Linked DNA regions of Homo sapiens. The protein of the gene in region 2 purifies or fractionates together with the protein of the main gene of each other region. This does not show direct contact. Each region holds a gene or a part of one and is shown on either strand. Other genes may lie near its edges.

Region 1 (3,387 bases), on a different chromosome or scaffold from region 2:
TGAAACGGTGTCTTGCTCTGTCGCCCAGGCTGGAGTGCAGTGGTACATTCTCAGCTCACTACAACCTGCGCCTCCCACACCCAAGCGACTCTCCTGTCCCAGCCCTCCGAGCAGCTGAGATCACAGGCGCATGTCACCATACCCAGCTAATTTTTTGTATTTTTAGTAGAGACAGGGTTCCACCATGCCGGCCAGGCCGGTCTCGAACTCCCGACCTTGTGATCTGCCAGCCTCGGCCTCCCAAAGTGCTGGGACCACAGACGTGAGCCACCGCGCCCGGCCTGTTTCTTTTTTTTTTTTTTTTTTTTTTTTAGTATTTATTGATCATTCTTGGGTGTTTCTCGGAGAGGGGGATTTGGCAGGGTCATAGGACAATAGTGGAGGGAAGGTCAGCAGATAAACATGTGAACAAGGGTCTCTGGTTTTCCTAGACAGAGGACCCTGCGGCCTTCCTCAGTGTTTGTGTCCCTGGGTACTTGAGATTAGGGAGTGGTGATGACTCTTAAGGAGCATGCTGCCTTCAAGCATCTGTTTAACAAAGCACATCTTGCACCGCCCTTAATCCATTTAACCCTGGGTGGACACAGCACATGTTTCAGAGATCATGGGGTTGGGGGTAAGGTTATAGATTAACAGCATCCCAAGGCAGAAGAATTTTTCTTAATACAGAACAAAATGGAGTCTCCCATGTCTACTTCTTTCTACACCAACACAGTAACAATCTGATCTCTTTTCCCCACATTTCCCCCTTTTCTATTCGACAAAGCCGCCATCGTCATCATGGCCCATTCTCAATGAGCTGTTGGGTACACCTCCCAGACGGGGTGGCAGCCTGGCAGAGGGGCTCCTCACTTCCCAGACGGGGCAGCCGGGCAGAGGCGCCCCCCACCTCCCTCCCAGACGGGGCGGCTGGCGGGGCGGGGGCTGACCCCCCACCTCCCTCCCGGACGGGGCGGCTGCCAGGCGGAGGGGCTCCTCACTTCGCAGACGGGCAGCTGCCGGGCGGAGGGGCTCCTCACTGCTCAGACGGGGCAGCCGATCAGAGACACTCCTCACCTCCCAGATGGGGTGGTGGTCGGGCAGAGACACTCCTCAATTCCCAGACGGGGTCGCCACCGGGCAGAGGCATTCCTCACATCCCAGACTGGGCGGCCGGTCAGAGGGGCTCCTCACATCTCAGACGATGGGCGGCCGGGCAGAGACACTCCTCACTTCCTAGACAGGATGGCGGCCGGGAAGAGGCGCCCCTCACTTCCCAGACTGGGCGGCCAGTCGGAGGGGCTCCTCACATCCCAGACGATGGGCGGCCAGGCAGAGACGCTCCTCACTTCCCAGACGGGGTGGCGGCCGGGTAGAGGCTGCAATCTCGGCACTTTGGGAGGCCAAGGCAGGCGGCTGGGAGGTGGAGGTTGCAGCGAGCCGAGATCACGCCACTGCACTCCAGCCTGGGCAATGTTGAGCACTGAGTGAGCGAGACTCCGTCTGCAATCCCGGCACCTCGGGAGGCGGAGGCAGGTAGATCACTCGCAGTCAGGAGCTGGAGACCAGCCCGGCCAACACGGCGAAACCCCGTCTCCACCAAAAAATGCAAAAACCAGTCAGGTGTGGCGGCGGGCACCTGCAATCCCAGGCACTCTGCAGGCTGAGGCAGGAGAATCAGGCAGGGAGGTTGCAGTGAGCCGAGATGGCGGCAGTACAGTCCAGCCTCGGCTTTGACAACTTTGGTGGCATCAGAGGGAGACCGGGGAGAGGGAGAGGGAGACGGGAGAGGGAGAGGGAGACGGGAGAGGGAGAGGGAGGAGGGAGAGGGAGACGGGAGAGGGAGACGGGAGAGGGACAGGGTTTTCTAGATATACAATCATATCATTGGTAAGCAGAATGACCGCTTTTAGAGTGCTCCCTGTCCCCAATTTTATGTGTAATTCATTTCACACACTTAAGCCTGCAACAGAAAAATGCACATCACAATTTTAAGTCACTTTCCTCCATCGTTATTGACGTGAGTACAATGTTTTTAGTATTATACCTTTGTTTATTGGAAACTCAACTCATTCCTTATTTTCCTCCTGTGTCATCTGCATCCTCCAATGTGATACCAAGTTTTATATTTTCTTATATTTTCTCACTTTAAGTGGAAGTGCAAGCTTCCACTTAAAACTAAGTGCCCACTGTGATAATTTTGGAATGATATCCTATATCTAATGAAATTCTATGCCAGATAACAAATATCACTGTATACTGTTGTCACTCAAATATGCAAATTAAATAGAACTAACTTAGAATGTACTACTCATGGGTAATAATTGGTATGTATGCATGCTCATGGTCAATAGAAAAATAATCGTATTTGTTAAAAAAGAAGTTTCTCAGCCATGGCTTTTGTGCAACTTCTTTTACCTCCAGACAATGCATGCCCACTCTCAGTTCTGCATGAGTGGGGACCACACGTTAGAAGGGACAGAACATGCCATCAAGGAAATTGTCAAAGAAGAAGCTGATGAGTACTTTGTCATAGTCTTGAGTGATGCAAATCTGTCACGATATGGAATACATCCTGCTAAGTTTGCTCAAATCCTCACAAGAGACCCTCAAGTAAATGCTTTTGCCATTTTTATTGGCTCTTTAGGTGATCAAGCAACCAGGTAAGTGTCATCTGAGCATACAGAAAAGGGCAGGTACAGAGATACTGAGTAGCTAACACATGCTGTTTTATAGGCTTAGCACCATGAGGGACAGTGAGGCAGATGGAGGAAAAACAGAAACTAAAGTTACTAGCCTCAAGGGGTTTATAATCTAGTTGAGGGGATATGTTCTAGCTTTTGTTTAGATGAACAATAATAATTTTAAATTAATTATTTTTTAGTTTATATTTAAGCCACTAATAAATCATTGACAAATTGATTTGTCACTAATAAACCGGGTAGTATTTTATACATTTGGCACTTTATGTCAAGCTCCTAAGCTCAGGCTAATCATTTTGTGTTCAAATCATATTAAAAATCGTGAACATCTACTATTTTCCTAGCATAGGAGATAGTGTGTGTGTATGAATGTCTGTACATATTAGACATATATATACACACATATGTATTATATCCCCATAGAGACATCACCTACATATATGCATGCCTGTATATATATATAGACACACTCACATGTATCCCTTCTTATTGCTGGAGAGACAAGGCAGGTGAAACACTTGGCGACAACATAAGATAATATACATATAGTTAGATACTACACTGAATATACTAAATATTCAATAGAGAATCTTATGATCAGACAATAAATACCAGTGGGTATGATCTGAAAGGAGAGATCTGGAAACACTTTCATAACTTGAACACAATAACATTTATCTTTTTGAATTACAAACAGAAAGAGCTC
Region 2 (4,796 bases):
AGGTTCTGCACACCCTCACCACCACTTGCTATTATCTGCCGCTTAGATTCTAGCCATTCCTTGGAGTAGAAACTGGTGTTTCGGCTGGGCACAGTGAGTGGTTCATGCCTGTAATCCCAGCACTTTGGAAGGCTGTGACAGGAGGATCACTTGAGCCCAGGAGTTTGAGACCAGCCTGGGCAACATAGTGAGACCTCATCTCTACAGAAAACTAAAAAATTAACCAGGCATGGTGATGCACTCCTATAATCACAGCTACTCGGGAGGTTGAGGTGGGAGGATCACTTAAGCCCAGGAGGTTGAGGTTGCAGTGAACCGTGATTGTGCCACTGCATTCCAGCCTGGGTGACAATGAGACCCTGCCTCAAAAAAAAAGTGGTATTTCATTGTGCATTTGATTTGCATTTCCTGATGGCTAATGGTGGTGAGCGCCTTCTCATGTCTAGTAACCATTTGTATATCCTCGTGAGCAAAGCATCTATTCAAATCCTTTGCCCATTTTAAAAATTGGGTTGTCATCTTGTTGAGTTGCAGAAGTTCTTTATATGTTCTGAATCCTAGATATTGATCACTTCTTTAGTTTACAAATATTTTTTCCTGTGGGTTGTCATTATTTTCTTGTTAGTGTCCTTTGATGCATGAAAGTTTTTAAATTTGATGAAGTCCATCTATTTTGTTGCTTATGCTTTTGATGTTAGATTTAAGAAGCCATTGACTAATTCAAGGCCATGAAAATTTACACCTACATTTCCTTCTAAGAAATGTATAGTTTTAGTGCTTCTTACCTTTAAGTCTTTGATCCATTTTGACTTAAATTTGTGTATGGTGTAAGGGAGCAGGTCCCATGTCATACCTGTGAGTAGCCAGTTGTCCCAGACCATTTTGCTTTGTTGTTGAGACAGGGTCTCGCTCTGTTGCCAAGACTGGAGTGCAGGGGTGTGATCATGGCTCACTGCAGCCTCGACCTCTTGGGCTCAAGCAATCCTCCTGGCTCAGCCTCCAGAGTAGCTGGGACTACAAGCATGTGCCACCATGCCTGGCTAATTTTTTTTTTTGAGACAGAGTCTCGCTGTGTCGCCCAGGCTGGTGTGCGGTGGCGTGATCTCGGCTCACTGCAAGCTCCGCCTCCCGGGTTCACGCCATTCTCCTGCCTCAGCCTCCTGAGTAGCTGGGACTACAGGCGCCCGCCACCACGCCCAGCTAATTTTTTTTTTTTTTTCAGTAGAGACGGGGTTTCACCGTGTTAGCCAGGATGGTCTCGATCTCCTGACCTCGTGATCCACCTGCCTCAGCCTCCCAAAGTGCTGGGATTACAGGCGTGAGCCATTGTGTCCGGCCTAGTTTTTCAAGATTTTTTTGTAAAGACAGGGTCTCACCATGTTACCCAGGCTGGTCTCCAACTCCTGGGCTCAAGCTTTCCTCCCACCTCGGCCTCCCCAAGTGCTGAGATTACAGGCGCGAGCCACTGCACCTGGCCCATTTCCACTTCCTCCTTTCCACTCTGAACGCCTTTTATTTCTTTTTCTTGCCTCATTGCTCTGGCTGGAACGTCTAGCACTTTGTTGAACGTGGTGGTGAGAGCACACGTCCTCGTCTCATTCCTGATCGAACGCGGTGGTGAGAGCACACGTCCTCGTCTCGTTCCTGATCGAACGCGGTGGTGAGAGCACACATCCTCGTCTCGTTCCTGATCGAACGCGGTGGTGAGAGCACACGTCCTCGTCTCGTTCCTGATCGAACGTGGTGGTGAGAGCACACGTCCTTGTCTTGTTCCTGATCTTAAGGGAACGTTTGCAGTCTTTCACCACTAGATGTGATGTGAGCTGTTAGATTTTCAAGGATGCTCTTCATCCAGCTGAAGACGGTCCCTTCTAGTCCTAATTTGTTAAGTGTTTTTATCCTTAAAGGGTACTGGATTTTGTCAAATGCTTTTCTGGCCTCTATTGAAAAGATCCTGTGTTCTTCTGTGAATATGAGGTGTTACATTGATTGATTTTCATATGTTGAGCCAGTTTCCATTTGTGGAATACATCTAACTCGGTCATGGTGTATAATCCATTTACTCTGCTGCTGAATGTGATTTGCTTGTATTTTGGTGCGGATTTTTACATCTGTATTTATAAGGGATATTGGTCTGGTGTTTTCTTATGATGTCTTCCTTTGGTTTTGATATCAGGATAATATTAGCCTCATAGATTGGGTTAGGAAATGTTCTCTCCTCCGTTTTTTTTGGAAGAGAGAGATTGGTGTTAATTCTTGCTAGAACCTTTGGTAGAATTTGCCAGTAAGCCTATCTGGTCTTGGGTCTTTGGGAGGATTTTGATTCGATTCAATCTATGTATTTGTTATAGATCGTTCGGATTGTCCATCCTTGAGTCAGTTGCTAGCTTGTGTGTTTCTTGGAGTTTTTCCGTTTCGTCCATGTTATCTCATCTGTTGGCATACCGTCGTTCACGGGATTTTATTGATGTGTGTGAGGTCTCTGAGAACGTCCCTGCCTTCACTCCTGCTTTTAGTCACTGGCATCTTCTTTTAACTTGGGCCATCTGGCCGTGCATGGTTTTGGGAGAGTCCTCCTTGACTCTGCAGATGCTGAGCAGTGATCTGGCTGGGAAAGGGGACCAGGAGTGCAGGGCACCTGCTGAGGACTCACCTAAGCCCAAGAGTCAGAGAGTCGGAGCTCCAACCACATCTGCCTGCATGCCTTTCCCAGGCTCTCCCCAGGCGGACAGCCAGCACCCCCTCCCCAAAGACCGGGCAGTTCCTGACCAGCACCCCACCAAGTCCTCAGTAAGGCCTGTCTTTGGGGGAGCAGGGTTTCAGGAGGACAGTGGGGGTGGTGTAGAACTCATGGCTGGCGGTTCCGGGCCTCTCAGGAAGCTTTGCCACTGGGCTTGGGGTTAAGTGGGTGTGGGGCTCCGAACCCTAAATGGGTGAGAGTTGAAATGAAAGCGGCACCTGTAGTCCGTTTGGGGTGCAGGTGTGTGCCAGGGGTCTTCAGCCCCGGCTGATGGCCACATGAACCACATGAGGAGAGGCAGGGCGTGTCAGCAGCAAACCTAAGTGTGTGCTCATTTCTGTGGGCCCTTACTCTGTGACACTGCAGCTCTCCAGAGAGACGCTTTGAAAACAAAACAGGAAAGAACACACGGCCCCGCGTCTGTTGCCTGAGTCACTGTATTCCTTAAAAGGTGAAGGACCCTGGTCCTTGGCTTTTCGTGCACATGAGAAAATGTTGGCCAAGGTTAGCGATTATGCTTCTGTAATCTGTAACCAGAAGTGCTCTTATGCCCAAACCTTGATGTGATTCTGCTGTAATGTAACTTCGGAGCCAGCTGGATGGATGTGACTGTGCAGGTCCTGAGCCCCGGCCCCCGTAACCAAGCAGTGGGCCGAGACACTGAGCCGGGCAGTCAAACAGGAGCTCTCTAAGGCTGCTCCCGGGCTGGGACCTGGGTCTAGGATTCTCAGTAAGACCTTTGAATAAAACTAACTTGAATTCTTCAAAAGCTTGATTTTTTTTCTTCAGTCAAAAGCATCTTGCAGAGATGCCAGCCCACCGTGGGGATGTGCAGTGGCAGCCCTGAGCTGGCCCAGCCCCTTTCCCCAAGGCTGCTCTGGGGAGGGGGGCGGGTTTGGGGGAGTAGAGTGCAGGGGATTGAAGCAGGGGAAACAGGGTGTGAGGGTCAAGGGGGGCTAGAATTGGGGGAGCAGGTTCACGGGCCAGGGGCTGGGCAGGGGTGGGCCTGGGCACCTGGTAGGTGGGGGAGCCCCAACTTCCCATCCCTGCGTCACACGCCCTTCCCCTGCAGGGTGGGGGTCTGCAGGGTTGGCATGTGCCCCCCTGCCCTGTCCCCACCCTACTCCCCGGCGGCAGGCAGAGGGGCGTGCAGGGGGGCCCTAAGTGCAGTGACGTCTCGACTCTGACTCCGACCCACAGAACTTTAAAAATAGGGCCGTGGTAAAGTCCGTCTCTACAGACCACAGCCTGCCCAGAGCTAAGAATATTCTTGAACCACTTAATAATTCAAGTCAGATCCAAATAGATTTTCCTGCTCACTTGCGGGCCTCTGTGTCCCTTTCCCAGGCCCCCACCCTGCCTGGAGGCTGGGAGGGAAAGACTCCAAGAAGCAGGTGGGCCTGGCCTTTGGAGCCTCTGAGACCCCAGCTGTCCTGCGTCCCCTCTCCTGTGGCACTCAGGATCAGAAGACACACCAGGGCTGGAGTGGTCCTTTAGGATCTGGCCAAGGTCAGGCCCCAGGGAGGGGCCCCTCTGGTGGTCCTAGCTGTCCCAAGCCCCACCCCTGCTCTGGCCACAGGCATTGGACTATTTGAATCTGGGTCTGAGCTGGGCCTTGGCCCCTTGCACAGCATCTGACCTGAGCCACGCACCTCTCATGGGGGCCCCGTCCTCCAGGGCCAAGGGCAGCATGAGCTCCAGGAGAGCCAGCCTCGCCCCTCACACCCTGGTAGCTGGTACACGCCCACCCCAGGGCCTGTGTCCTGCCTCCTCTGCGGAAGAGTCCCTGAAGGGCCTGGCCTGGGGCTCCTTGTCCTGGTGGAAGTGGCTGTGCACAGGCAACCAGGGCCCTGGGTTCCAGACCAAGGCCTCTGTACTTGTGTGCTGTGTGTGCTTGGGTAAGCCACCTCGCCTCTCTGAGCCTCTTATCAGTGGGACCGATGCTTTTAGAATAAGCTGTGGTGTTTGGGGCAGGAAGGGGTATCTGACGGGTGCCCTGAGGCCTGAGTCACCCTCTCCTCCAGGGGCAGTGCCCAAGCTGCAGACACCCCTCACC

Evidence for each region. The genes of interacting proteins can lie anywhere in the genome.
Region 1: the proteins of ENDOV (region 2) and VWA8 purify together in Homo sapiens (affinity purification with mass spectrometry; 3 studies listed by BioGRID and IntAct, with this or other methods). This does not show direct contact.

The regions. Positions count from the first base shown.
Region 1 is NC_000013.11:41,569,723-41,573,109, reverse strand, and holds part of VWA8 (von Willebrand factor A domain-containing protein 8 isoform a precursor), read left to right. Parts: intron 1-2,403; coding exon 2,404-2,642; intron 2,643-3,387. UniProt on the Homo sapiens protein: Exhibits ATPase activity in vitro.
Region 2 is NC_000017.11:80,434,578-80,439,373, forward strand, and holds the end of ENDOV (endonuclease V), read left to right. Parts: intron 1-1,555; coding exon 1,556-1,566; coding exon of another isoform or gene 1,567-1,621; 3' UTR 1,622-3,509; downstream 3,510-4,796.